4 linked regions of the Homo sapiens genome follow. The protein of the gene in region 4 interacts with the protein of the main gene of each other region in a pairwise test. Each region holds a gene or a part of one and is shown on either strand. Other genes may lie near its edges.

Region 1 (3,500 bases), on a different chromosome or scaffold from region 4:
CCCTCGGAAGGGAGGCTGGGTGGTCCATGGACATCTGCAGTCGGTGTGTGTTGCCCCTTACCCTGCTCCAGGCTCGGACACCACCTATAGAAAGAGGTCAGACTGCAGAGGCTGAGTCTCAGCTCCTGTGCTGAGAAGCAGAGGGCATTTCTTCCTGTTTGAGAAGCATGTTCTCAGGGTTACGTTCCTATGTGGTAAAATACTAATATCTTTAAAGGCAAGAGAATTGTATACCCAAAATTCAGAAAAGTGCTTCCCTTGGGGAGCGGGAGAAGCTAGGGGATGGGATTGAGGAGGAGTACACACGGAGGATCAGAGGGACTGGGAGTGTTTCTAAGTTTGGAGGTGGGCTCTGAGGACCTCATTTGAATGCTTCAGAACATATATGTATGTTATAAATTTTTTTTGTATGACTCCAGTATTATATGATGAGAAATTTAAAAATAGAAAGCATATGGAGCTCCAAGCATTGACTCATAGCAGGAAGGCAGTCTTCGAAGAGCAGAAAGGCAAAGGCCCTGTAGGCAGTTGGAGGTTTGAGTCCCAATACCATTGCTTCCCAGCTTGGTGGCCTTGGGCAAGTTATTTAACCTTCCTAAGCCTCGATTTCCTTATCTGTAAAATGGGGATGATAATAGCACCTACCTCTAAGGATGTGGGGAGGATTTGATGGAATAATGCAGATAAACTACTTGGCTTGGTATGGATCAAATAGATGTTAGCTGCTCTTACATAATCATTATTTTCCAATCTAATGAGCAAAGGGATGGAAGAATGGAAGAGTAAAATAGGAACTCGACAACACCAAGTAAGACAGGAGCTGAGGACATCTCCCATGCTCTGGGCCATCCTATTGGCCATCCGAATTTTCCAGCACTGTGTGAAAGCCTTTGCCTAGAATGTACTAGTGTTTCTAGTTTCCGATGAGCTGCTGTGGAGGTAACTGTCTCTGTGCCCTCTACTGTCAGATCTGCTCAACTGTGTAGCTGTCAGTATTTCTCCGTTTTCCTGGAGCAGAGGGTCTGTGAAGCATGCTTCCCTGATACACCAGGACCATCCAACCCATGGAAGCTTGTTGAGACCTCAGCGCCCTTGGCTGCTGGGCCAGCTTTTCCTCCCAAACCTGCCCTCAGAGCATTTTACATTATAGAAACAAAACAAAACCAAAAAAACTGCAGGCAGTTTCACAGTGAAGGAAGCTTTACCTAAAGACTGTTAGAAGAAGCTTTTTGTCCTTGAATTCCCAGATAAAGTTCTTGCAGTCCTTGCAGATATGGTGGTTCCGAGAAAATAAGTAGGATTTTGCAATGATCATGCTTATAATTTTGGTCAGTTTTCTTTTTTTTAAGTCACAGAAAATAGAACTTGGATAAATACAGACCTGGTTTTGCTCACTCCCAGTTTGCCAAGTCAGTGAGAGGGCAGACGGGTAAATGATTCCCATCGGACCCTTGACTCCATCCCTGTCAAATCATTTGAATCTTATTAACTGAAGTGCAGATAGAGTAAGGTCAGAAGAGCCCCAGCTTCTCCCTATCTCTACCGTTTTATATAACATTCAGGAATAAAACCAGTGCTGCCTGGGCTTGTTAATCCTTTCCATTTTCAAAAAGGAGAGGAAAAAAAAAACAGTCTGGGAGAACCCAATGTTAATTAACTTGTGTCTTGGTGACATGAAATAATTCTTCTCCCTGCCACATTCCTAGGCAACATGTTAATTAACTCTGCATTAGTGCAGGCATTTCCAGCCATTCTTTAATATTTATATTATTGTTATTAAAATGGGCAGCAGAGAGCTTAAGATGGGACATCTCTTGACAGAGGAGAAAAATTGTCTTTTGCGTCAGGGATGGTCCTTTAGCCAAGGTCTTGTTTACTGGCATTCTTAGTATATCTGGCAGGATCTTTTAACAAGGCAAGTTGGAGGAGTAACTGAACGGGCCCTCTAATGTGTTTGAGTTCTTCACCCCTAGGATAACTTGTCCCCGTGAGGATTTCCAATGGCTGAGTTGCCTGTTACAGTTCTTTTCCGACATTTAGCTTCAAACATTCATGAGACCCCCATGCAGAACCTCAACTCTGCTGCTGTGTTGTATTGTTGGGAACCCAAGAGCAGCTGTTCATGTCTGTGCTGAGCCAGATCTCCTTGGATCCCTTTTCACTAATTCTTGTGTGCTGGGAGTGGTGGGGTGGCGGTGATGGCAGTGGTTTTGCTTTTAACAGCCAGCACCTGAATCTGTTAGAGCCAGAAGTATGCCTGCCCCAACTAGACCCCCAACGGACCTTAACCAGTGACAGACATGGTGGGAGTACCAAGCCCCGCAGCCTTGCCTGGAGCCAGGCATAACTTATATTCCAGGGTCCCTCCCCTCTGAGGGACTTTGCCTGAGGATACAACTTGGCTTGGCTTCCTCCCCTTCCCTCCAGCCTCCCCTGCTGCCTTCCAGGTTTTTCCTGAGAATGCCTCATTCATAAATCACTGGCACATCAATCCTTGCCTCAGGGGCTGCTTCTGGGATATCCAGCCTAAGATACCAATTCTTGGTGCCAGAGGTTAATGCTCAAGTTAGGTGTCAAGTCCCGGCTTATTTTTTACTAATATTAGAATCTCCGAATCCCAGAGCTGGAAGGGGCTACAGAGACCTTCTTTTTCAGTTCCCTTGCTTTATGGCTTAAGTCACAGAAGCCTGTACAGGGGACTCCATTTGCTCAGGTCACCTGGCAAGTTAGAGGTCATGCTGGGACCTGAACTTGTCTCCCACATATTCGTCCTTTGTCCTTCCCTTCATAGCTGCCTGATGTGGGTTGTAATTTACCCCCTGACTTCCCTTTAATAAGCTCCCTCCTTCCTTAAGGATCGCACACCCCAGGCAGTTGGATTCATTCCATGCACACTGTTTTCTCAGTCGTTCATCCTTGCTCAGGCCCAAACTTAACTTACAGAGCAGTCAGGAAACCAGAACTGTCTTTCCACTCTGTGACCTCCAATGTGGCGGTTACCTGCAGCTCCACCATCTGCTACGTTGGGATAAAATGTTCTCCCCCCAGTAATGAGTTTGCTCCCAGGCGGTGCTTTGAAAACACTCAGAGATCTTCAAATGGAAAGCAGGATTCAGAGGCAAATTAGCTGGCCCTGGCCCGAACAATGAGCTCTCCACTCACAGACCACCTCTTGTCAATTCCATTAATCTCGCCCAAATATTGCAAAATGTGTCAACTGCCCTTAGGTCCCCTACAACCTCTCAGAATGTACCCACTGATTCTCTGATATCCTGAAATCAACCAGAACTTCCAATAAGAGCAAGCATTCACCTAAAACTGTCCTAAAGGTTTTATGTAGAAACCACCTGCTAACATGCTATGTTTTCAGCCACGAGTGAAAATTACTTCCTGCAGCAAGACTGGCACAGCTGGGAATACACCCAAGATGTGTTAAAACATAACCAGCGTTGGCTTAGCCCTTGACCATGGGTGCCCTGACATGCTTCGTTTGGTTGTTT
Region 2 (3,500 bases), on a different chromosome or scaffold from region 4:
GTGGATAAGCTTTTTGATGTGCTGCTGGATTTGGTTTGTGAGTATTTTATTGAGGAGTTTTGCATCAGTGTTCATCAAGGATATTGGTCTAAAATTCTCTTTTTTTGTTGTGTCTCTGCCAGCCTTTGGTATCAGGATGATGCTGGCCTCATAAAATGAGTTAGGGAGGATTCCCTCTTTTTCTATTGATTGGAATAGTTTCAGATGGAATGGTACCAGCTCCTTCTTGTACCTCTGGTAGAATTCGGCTGTGAATCCATCTGGTTCTGGACTTTTTTTGGTTGGTAAGCTATTTATTATTGCCACAGTTTCAGAGCCTGTTATTGGTCTATTCAGAGATTCAACTTCTTCCTGGTTTAGTCTTGAGAGCGTGTATGTGTTGAGGAATTTATCCATTTCTTCTAGATTTTCTAGTTTATTTGCGTAGAGGTGTTTGTAGTATTCTCTGATGGTAGTTTGTATTTCTGTGAGATCGGTGGTGACATCCCCTTTATCATTTTTTATTGCATCTGGATTCCCTCTTTTTCTATTGATTGGAATAGTTTCAGAAGGAATGGTACCAGCTCCTCTTTGTACCTCTGGTAGAATTCGGCTGTGAATCTGTCTAGTCCTGGACTTTTTTTGGTTGGTAAGCTATTAATTATTGCCTCAATTTCAGAGCCTGTTATTGGTCTATTCAGAGATTCAACTTCTTCCTGGTTTAGTCTTGGGAGGGTGTATGTGTCCAGGAATTTATCCATTTCTTCTAGATTTTCTAGTTTATTTGCATAGAGGTGTTTAAAGTATTCTCTGATGGTTGTTTGCATTTCCGTGGGATCAGTGGTGATATCCCCTTTATCATTTTTTATTGCATCTATTTGATTCTTCTCTCTTTTCTTCTTTATTAGTCTTGCTAGTGGTGTGTCAATTTTGTTGATCTTTTCAAAAAACCAGCTCCTGGATTCATTGATTTTTTGAAGGGTTTTTTATGTCTCTATTTCCTTCAGTTCTGCTCTGATCTTAGTTATTTGTCTTCTGCTAGCTTTTGAATGTGTTTGCTCTTGCTTCTATAGTTCTTTTAATTGTGATGTTAAAGTGTCGATTTTAGATCTTTCCTGCTTTCTCTTGTGGGCATTTAATGCTATAAATTTCCCTCTACACACTGCTTTAAATGTGTCCCAGATATTCTGGTATGTTGTGTCTTTGTTCTCATTAGTTTCAAAGAACATCTTTCTGCCTTCATCTCGTTATTTACCCAGCAGTCATTCAGGAGCAGGTTGTTCACTTTCCATGTAGTTGTGCAGTTCTGAGTCAGTTTCTTAATCCTGAGTTCTAATTTGATTGATTGCACTATGGTCAGAGAGACAGTTTGTTATAATTTATGTTCTTTCACATTTGCTAAGGAGTGCTTTACTTCCAACTATGTGGTCAATTTTGGAATAAGTGTGATGTGGTGCTGAGAAGAATGTATATTCTTTTTATTTGGGTTGGAGAGTTCTGTAGATGTCTATTAGGTCCACTTGGTGCAGAGCTGAGTTCAAGTCCTGGATATCCTTGTTAAGTTTCTTTCTCGTTGATCTGTCTAATGTTGACAGTGGGGTGTTAAAGTCCCCCATTATTATTTTGTGGGAGTCTAAGTCTCTTTGTACATCTCTAAGGACTTGCTTTATGAATCTGGGTGCTCCTGTATTGATTGGGTGCATAGATATTTAGGATAGTTAGCTCTTCTTGTTGAATTGATCCCTTTACCATTATGTAATGGCCTTCTTTGTCTCTTTTGATCTTTGTTGGTTTAAAGTCTGTTTTAGGCCAGGCACGGTAGCTTACGCCTATAATCCCAGCACTTTGGGAGGCCGAGGCAGGTGGATCACGAGGTCAGGAGTTCAAGACCAGCCTGGCCAAGATGGTGAAACCCTGTCTCTACTAAAAATACAAAAATTAGCCGGGCATGGTGGCACTTGCCTATAATCTCAGCTACTCAGAAGGCTGAGGCAGAGAATTGCTTGAACCTGGGAGGTGGAGGTTGCAGTGAGCCAAGATCGCACCACTGCACTCCAGCCTGGGCGACAGAGTGAGACTCTTTCTCAAAAAAAAAAAAAAAGTTTGTTTTATCAGAGACTAGGATTGTAACCCCTGCTTTTTGTTGTTGTTGTTTTCCATTTGCTTGTTAGACCTTCCTCCATCCCTTTATTTTGAGCCTATGTGTGTCTCTGCATGTGAGGTGGGTCTCCTGAATACAGCACACTGATGGGTCTTGACTCTTTATCCAATTTGCCAGTCTGTGTCTTTTAATTGGAGTATTTAGCCCATTTACGTTTAAGGTTAATATTGTTATGTGTGAATTTGATCCTGTCATTATGTTGTTAGCTGGTTATTTTGCTCGTTAGTTGATGTAGTTTCTTCTTAGCCTCGATGGTCTTTACAATTTGGCATGTTTTTGCAGTGGCTGGTACCAGTTGTTCCTTTCCATGTTTAGTGCTTCCTTCAGGAGCTCTTTTAGGGCAGGCCTGGTGGTGACAACATCTCTCAGCATCTGTTTGTCTGTAAAGTATTTTATTTCTCCTTCACTTACGAAGCTTAGTTTGGCTGGATATGAAATTCTGGGTTGAAAATTCTTTTCTTTAAGAATGTTGAATATTGGCCCCCACTGTCTTCTGGCTTGTGGAGTTTCTGCCAAGAGATCTGCTGTTAGTCTGATGGGCTTCCCCTTGTGGGTAACCGGACCTTTCTTTCTGGCTGCCCTTAATATTTTCCCTTCATTTCAACTTCGGTGAATCTGACAATTATGTGTCTTGGAGTTGCTCTTCTCGAGGAGTATCTTTGTAGCGTTCTCTGTATTTCCTGAATTTGAATGTCGGCCTGCCTTGCTAGATTGGGGAAGTTCTCCTGGATAATATCCCGCAGAGTGTTTTCCAACTTGGTTCCATTCTCCCCGTCACTTTCAGGTACACCAATCAGATGTAGATATGGTCTTTTCACATAGTCCCATATTTCTTGGAGGCTTTGTTCGTTTCTTTTTATTCTTTTTTCTCTAAACTTCTCTTCTTGCTTCATTTCATTCATTTGATCTTCAATCACTGATACCTTTTCTTCCACTTGATTGAATTGGCTACTGAAGCTTGTGCATGCGTCATGTAGTTTTCGCGCCATGGTTTTTAGCTCCGTCAGGTCATTTAAGGTCTTCTCTATGCTGTTTATTCTAGTTAGCCATTCGTCTAATCTTTTTCCAAGGTTTTTAGCTTCTTTGCGATGGGTTCAAACGTCCTCCTTTAGCTTGGAGAAGTTTGTTATTACTGATCCTCTGAAGTCTACTTCTGTCAACTCGTTAAAGTCATTCTCTGTCCAGTTTTGTTCTGTTGCTGGTGGGGAGCTGTGTTCCTTTGGAGGAGAAGAGACACTCTGATTTTTGGAATTTTCAGCTTTTCTGCTCTGGTTTCTCCCCATCTTTGTGGTTTTAATCTACCTTCGGTCTTTGATGTTGGTGACCTACAGATGGGGTTTTGGTGTGGGTGTCCTTTTTG
Region 3 (3,500 bases), on a different chromosome or scaffold from region 4:
AATGATCTGCCTGCCTTGGCCACCCAAAGTGCTGGGATTACAGGCGTGAGCCACTGCGCTCAACCTAGGTGTCCACCACTATGCTCGGCTAATTTTTGTATTTTTGGTAGAGGCGGGATTTCACCATGTTGGTCAGGCTGGTCTTGAACTCCTGGCTCCGGTTATCCACCCTCCTTGACCTCCTAAAGTGCTGGGATTACAGGCGGTGAGCCACCACACGTGGCCTTGATCATGCAGTTTTAATGGAGGGGAGTGGAAGTGACAGTAGAGGCCTTTTGACAAGATTTTGCTGAACAAATCAACAAGTAGCTAGAGGCAAAGTTGGCACAGGGGAGGTATGACATGATTGGGTAGAACTGAGCATGTTTAATTACCAAGTAGACAGGGCTCAGTGGAGAAAGGGGAAAAGGAAAAAAAGAAGAAAGCATGGCTCCGGGGTATGTGAGGTTGGACCCAGAGCAGAGCTGTTGTTCACGATGTCCGCTGTAAGGGGCCCACTACGTGCTTACAAACTCCTGGACTCTGACTTGACTTCACAAAGTCCACTTCCAAGAGTAATGTCAACCAGCTGGAGAGGAGGTGAGAGTCTGTAAGGCTGCCCCAGACATCTGAAGGGCTTTGGACAAGCAGGGTGCTGGGGTAGGACAGTGGGCGATATTGAGGGCCCGCTTACTCTATGGCTGTTCACTCTGATTTTCTTTTTTTTTTCTTGTGTGGTGGGTTTTTTTTTGGAGTTAGTCTCGCTCCGTCACCCGGGCTGGAGTACAATGGTGCGATCTCCACTCACTGAAAACTCCGCTTCCTGGGTTCAGGTGATTCTCTTGCCTCAGCCTCCGTAGTGGCTGGGACTACAGGCGCCCACCACCACGTCCAGGTAATTTTTTTTTTTTTTTTGAGACAGAGTCTTGCACTGTCGCCCAGGCTGGAGTGCAGTGGTGCGATCTTGGCTTACTGCAACCTCTGCCTCCCAGGTTCAAGCGATGCTCCTGCCTCAGCCTCCCAAGTAGCTGGGACTACAGGTGCCCACCATCACGCCCGGCTAGTTTTTTGTATTTTTAGTCGAGACAGAGGTTTTGTCTATTGGAACTCATGATCTCAAGTGGTCCCACCCACCTCGGCCTCCCAAAGTGCTAGGATTATAGGTGGGAGCCACTGTGCCTGGCCTCACCCTGATTTCTACAGTATTTCACAACTTGGGGGCAGCATTAGCCACCAGAGAACATTTGGGAATGTCTGGAGACATTCGGTTGTCAGAACTGGAGGTGGAGGGTGCTACTGGCATCTAGTGGGCAGAGACCAGGGATGCAGCTAAACATCCTACAGTGCCTGGGCCTGCCTCCACAACACAAAGAACTGTCTGGTCCAAAATGTCAGTAGTCCTGAGGCTGAGAAATTGTAGCTTAGAGGCACCGTTTCGCCTGGCTGTGTGCAGCTGAGCCACTCAGTACATCCATGGAGTAGTCAGATATTTGTTTGGAATCTTCCAGAGCTCTGGTTTTACTGGGCGCGTACAGTTAAGAAGTTCATTGAATGAATTCCATGTATTGTGAGGAAGGAATGTAAAATGATACTTGCTCTAAGCTGGATTATGAAGAATGAGGAGAGAAAGAGGCTGTGTGGATAAGGAAGCCAAGGTCTCTACAAAGGAGGGGGATAGCAGTTGTGGTGGAGGGAGTAGGATGTGATTAGGTGGGGTTTCCTGCAGGGAATGGTGAAATCATTGGAGGTAGGAGTCCAGGAGAAAATGGTTAGTGGATTATGGCTTCATCTCCCCTACCCGGAACGATGGCTGGACCTAAGGCTAGGAACAGAACTCGAGGGAGGCCTTCAGATACTTTTCATGAGTGAGGAGCAAGACCAGGGTATGGTCAAAGACAAAAGGACAGGCGGTGCCTAGCCTGACCCAGTGTTGGGAATGGAATTGCATAAGAAGCCCCCACCTGTAATTGAGCTGTCCCAGACCCATTATCCCAAGAGACACAATACAAACTTGCCCTGACTCTCCAAGGAGGAGCTTCTGAACTGTTAGCACAGAATTCCCTCCGTGGACAGGAGAGGAAGAATCTGCTGTGACCTTGCTCTGCCAGATCAGCATGTTGCAGTGGCCATATGCAGGGGATTTAGATAAGGCCCTGGGGAGGCGGAGACCATTACTTTCTAAGGTGGAGGCTAAACCCCAGGGTTTGTTGCAGACCCAAAGCACAGTTTGAGAATTGGGGATAGGATTATTTATGCCCAATCATTTGCCGTTCAGGATTATTTTATAAAAGTTGATGGAGTTTATGTACATAGTCAATAATTTGAGGTGGGCAATGAGCAATCCAGGTTAGGCTCCCCTTGACTCTCTTCCCAGAGGCTTCCATGTTCCACTCTCATTAGCAAGGGTGACATCTTTTAGTTAGGCTGTATACTTTGAAAGCCCTTGCATTCCAAATCACAGTTCGTGAGTAAATGCCGAGTGTTTGGTCTTGGTGATGTGTTCAGGATATCACATACTGTTCTGTTTCATTTGTGCCATTATGCTTGTTATTGGGAGAGGAGACACATCTTGTTATCTTTATAATCTGGTGTAGACACAGGTAAATTTGAAAGATTTACACAATTATCCTTTTAGACGTTGTCAATTTGAAATGATGAAGCACTGTATGATAATATGTCATTATCTGCAATGGCTACATCAAACTTTAAAATTACTAATTTTCCCTGAAGCTAGTGCAGTTGAGCATTTATTTAGTATGAATTTGCTTTTCCTTTTCTTAAATTACACTTACCTTTACTTTTTGTCTGTTTTTTAAATTGTGGGGTTTTCTTATGGAGCTTTTTTCCCCACATGATGAGCCCATATTTCTTGAAAAGGCCACCAGCTATATCTATTATGCTTGATGTAAAATGACACTTTGAAACATTCGATTTCCAGCTGTGCATGGTGGCTCACGCCAGTAATTCCAGCACTTTGGGCAGCTGAGGTGGGCGGATCACCTGAGGTCAGGAGTTCAAGACCAACCTCGCCAACATGGTGAAATCCCGTATCTCCTAAAAGTATAAAAAATTAGCCGTGCGTGGCGGCTGGTGCATGTAATCCCAGCTACTCAGGAGGCTGAGACAGGAGAATTTCGTGAACCCAGGAGGCGGAGGTTGCAGTGAGCCGAGACAGCACCACTGCACTCCAGCCTGGGCGACAGTGAGACTCTTGTCTCAAAAAAAAAAAAAAAAAAAAAAATTCCATATACTCCTATGCTCTTTTTGAGCGTCACCCTTGACAGTGTTCATATAAAAATACGTCTTTGGCCCCATGATACTGCAGTGTTTTTCTTGCTTGTGACTATGTTATAGACCCTGCTGTCTAGGTCAGCTGCTCCTCTTTCTCAGAAGACTGCCTTCCAGTGTGTGGTTGGCCTTACTCTGAGTTTGGACTTCAGGTGCCATGTACCACCCTGGTGGGAAGGGCATTTCTCAGCCCTCTTGCGATTGCCCTTTCTTCCCGATGCCCTCTTCCAGAT
Region 4 (3,500 bases):
ACACACACACCCCATGTCTGACATCTAAACAGAAAGACTGGGGGTTGGGGAGGAAGTCTTGGTGTTTTTAGGAACTGGTTTTTATTTTGAAGATTTTACCTTTAACAGGGATTGATTTATTGAGACGGAATTTTGCTCTTGTTGCCCAGGCTGGAGTGCAGTGGCTCAATCTCAGCTTACCGCACTCAATCTCTGCCTCCTGGGTTCAAGTGATTCTCCTGCCTCAGCCTCCCAAGTAGCTGGGATTACAGGCATGTGCCACCACACCCAGCTAATTTTTTGTATTTAGTAGAGACAGGGTTTCACCATGTTGGTCAGGCCGGGCTGGAACTCCTGACCTCAGGTGATCCACCCGCCTCGGCTTCCTGAAGTGCTGGGATTACAGGCGTGAGTCACCACGCCCACCCTTAACAGGGATTCTTAAAAAAAATCTACTTCTGTTCCCTAAAATTTTCTAAAAAGTTTATGTTCCATAGAATGTGTCTTATAATTCTATTTCATGTTTAATACTGCCTAACTTGAGGCCTGGTGTGGTGGCTTATGCCTGTAATCCCAGCAATTTGGAGGCCGAGGGTTTGAGACTAGTCTAGGCGACATAGACTCCATCTCTACAAAATATAAAAAAAATCAGCCAGGTGTGGTGGCGTAGTCCCAGCTACTTGGGAGGCTGAGGCAAGAGGATCACTTGAGCCTGGGATGTTGAGGCTGTAGGGAGCTGTGACCATGCCACTGCATTCCAGCCCCAGTGACAGAAGGAGACCCTGTCTCAAAAACAAAAAAAACACAAAAACCCTGCCCGACTGGGTCATTAAAGTATGTAGATCCCTCAGAAAAAGATTAGCCAGGCGTGGTAGCAGGCGCCTGTAATCTCAGCTAGTCGGGAGGCTGAGGCAGGAGAATTGCTTGAACCCGGGAGGTGGAGGTTGCAGTGAGCCAAGATTGTGCCATTGCATTCCAGCCTGGGTGACAGAGCAATACTGTGTTTAAAAAAAAAAAAAATAGCTATATGATATTTGACAGTTGAAATGGTAAGGGCTTTTTTTCTTGCTGATTAAAATATATAAAATATACTTGTCATCAGGGATTTTCTTTTGAGTTCTTTTGCTGGTTTGGAATTATGCTTTTTAAGTTCAAACGTTATTTACTGCTTTGACATAATTTTAGTTTGCATTGACTTTTTCTTTTTAAGGAATGGGAATGGAAGGCATAGGATTTGGAATAAATAAAATGGGAGGTAAGAAATTTAAAATGAAGTACAAGCATAATCACTTTTAGGCATAGTTTTCTCTCTTTCCTCTTTTCTTTCTTGTTTAAACCCTGCATGAAATTCTCTTTGGTTTCAGTTTGAGTCTAGAAATGACTTCCTCCTGCCTGTCCATCCTTCCAGCGGGTGTCTTGGCTTTTGGTTCTGGCTGTCTCACTAACTAGCTCTGTGACCTTGGGCAGACCACTCCATCTCTATGCCTCTTTTTGCTTGTCTATTCATTGAGGGGGTTGGATCAGACCAGCTTTTTGAAGATGGGTGATTTTTAAACAAGGGTGCTAGCATTTTTTTTGTTTTTCAAAAGCCTTTAAACTTGGTAAGTTCTTGGCAGAAGATACCCCAGTTGAAACATGTGATAGAATTTTTCTTTCCCTGCTTAGTCTAAGCAGTCTTGTTGGATGATGCTGAAATGTGAACCTCTCTTGCAGGAATGGAGGGGCCCTTTGGTGGTGGTATGGAAAACATGGGTCGATTTGGATCTGGGATGAACATGGGCAGGATAAATGGTAAGCATCGTGTTTTCTTCCTGCTTTCACTCACCCTTTGCCGGCTGTTGCCTCTCAGGTGACTTTTAGGCTGCAGACCCACTGAATAAGTGGTTTCTCACTTCTGCTTTTCAACCGAATCAAATGTCTTTTGAATTGCCTTAAATATTTCAAAAACTAGACATAATAGTAGACTTACTTCACTTGGTCGCTAGTCTTTTGAGATGTCCTGTGTTCCCAAGCTCTGCAGTAATTTTCGAGTACAGTGTTAAAAAGCATGTACACGTTCGTGGTTATGGTCTCCGAGTATGAGGGATTCTTTAAAGTTTGTAATCAAGTTTGTCTCTGGGAGTGCTGCAAAGGGTTGTTCTTGGTCATCTGCCCCAGCTACAAGTTGTCTATAGAGGCGTTAATAAAAATCACAGGCTCTTTTAATTTAGCATTTACATAATGCAAATTCTGGTTTAGTATAATTCAAATCCTCCACCAACTTTTTTTTTTTTTTTTTTGAGACAGGGTCTCACTCTGTCACCTAGGCTGGAGTGCAATGGTGCGATCTTGGCTCACTGCAACCTCCGCCTCCCAGGTTCAAGTGATTCTCCTGCCCCAGCCTCCTGAGTAGCTGGTATTACAGGTGTGTGCCACCATGCCTGGATAATTTTTATATGTTTAGTAGAGTCGGAGTTTCACCATGTTGGCCAGGCTGGCCTCGAACTCCTGACTTCATGTGATCCGCCCGCCTCAGCCTCCCAAAGTGCTGGGATTACAGGCGTGAGCCACCGTGCTCGGCACCTGCCCCCAACTTTTTAGCAGAAATATAATAATATAATAACAATGTAGTATTTCATTTAGTCCTTGTGAGAACCACATGATATGTACATACTGCTATCCTTGTTTCATCTGAAACTGAGGCACAGAGAGTGACATGCCTAGGTCAAGTGACTGGTAAACAGTGGTGCCTGCATGTGAACCCAGGCTGTCTGGCTCCAGAGCCTGGCACTTCATCATGTGGGAATCCTGCCTTTTAGAAGTGCCTCCAGCACAGCACTTGGCCCAGGGCACCAGCAGGGCTGTAGAGTGTGCATGAGAAATTGTAAATTTTCCTTTTTGAAATCCTTTATGTGTTGGTGACTCTTTGACCTTCCCCTTCACTGCAGGAAAGCTGCTGCTTTTTTACACAGAAACTTTCTTGGACTGAGAAGTCATTAGGGATTTAGGTATAAACCTTCCTTTGCGGGTCTGCCATAACAAAGGATGTGAAAATGGTACAAGGACAGACATCATTGTCAGGCTTGAAAGGCGGCTGTCCCTGATGATCAGGCCCTTCTTCCGGTGCACAGGGAGCAGTGGGGCATGATGTGTGTTGCCCTCTTCATGGGTGCCTTGTTCTAGAAGCTGGTAAAAGGATGTAGGAAAGTTGTCACCATTAGTAATAAAGCAACAGAGGTCTGCGTTTCCAGTGTACATTCAAGCTTGCCTGTAACTTGTGTGTGCATGGGATTTTAATTTTTAAAAAAAGTTTCAGAAATCTGGCTTGGTAAAATGTTACTCAGAGCAGATTAGTCTGGGTGTGCTGGCTCACGCCTGTAATCCCAACACTTTGGGAGGCTGGGGTAAGAGGATTGCTTGAGCTCAGGAGTTCAAGATCAGCCTAGGCAACACTGCGAAACCCCATCTCTCTCTTTTTTTTTTTTTTTTTTTTTTTTAAGAACAGATTAGTCATTAGGGAATTTGAGTTGTTGCTGTGAGGA

The links. Proteins that work in one complex are often made in the same cells at the same time.
Region 1: the proteins of HNRNPM (region 4) and LMO2 interact in binary tests that used the Homo sapiens proteins (3 or more experiments, as listed by UniProt).
Region 2: the proteins of HNRNPM (region 4) and TSGA10 interact in binary tests that used the Homo sapiens proteins (3 or more experiments, as listed by UniProt).
Region 3: the proteins of HNRNPM (region 4) and HNRNPF interact in binary tests that used the Homo sapiens proteins (3 or more experiments, as listed by UniProt).

Annotation. Positions count from the first base shown.
Region 1 is NC_000011.10:33,861,077-33,864,576, reverse strand, and holds part of LMO2 (rhombotin-2), read left to right. Parts: intron 1-3,500. UniProt on the Homo sapiens protein: Acts with TAL1/SCL to regulate red blood cell development. Also acts with LDB1 to maintain erythroid precursors in an immature state.
Region 2 is NC_000002.12:99,001,443-99,004,942, reverse strand, and holds part of TSGA10 (testis-specific gene 10 protein), read left to right. Parts: intron 1-3,500. UniProt on the Homo sapiens protein: Plays a role in spermatogenesis. When overexpressed, prevents nuclear localization of HIF1A.
Region 3 is NC_000010.11:43,388,687-43,392,186, reverse strand, and holds part of HNRNPF (heterogeneous nuclear ribonucleoprotein F), read left to right. Parts: intron 1-3,500.
Region 4 is NC_000019.10:8,472,475-8,475,974, forward strand, and holds part of HNRNPM (heterogeneous nuclear ribonucleoprotein M), read left to right. Parts: intron 1-1,189; coding exon 1,190-1,234; intron 1,235-1,692; coding exon 1,693-1,770; intron 1,771-3,500. UniProt on the Homo sapiens protein: Pre-mRNA binding protein in vivo, binds avidly to poly(G) and poly(U) RNA homopolymers in vitro. Involved in splicing.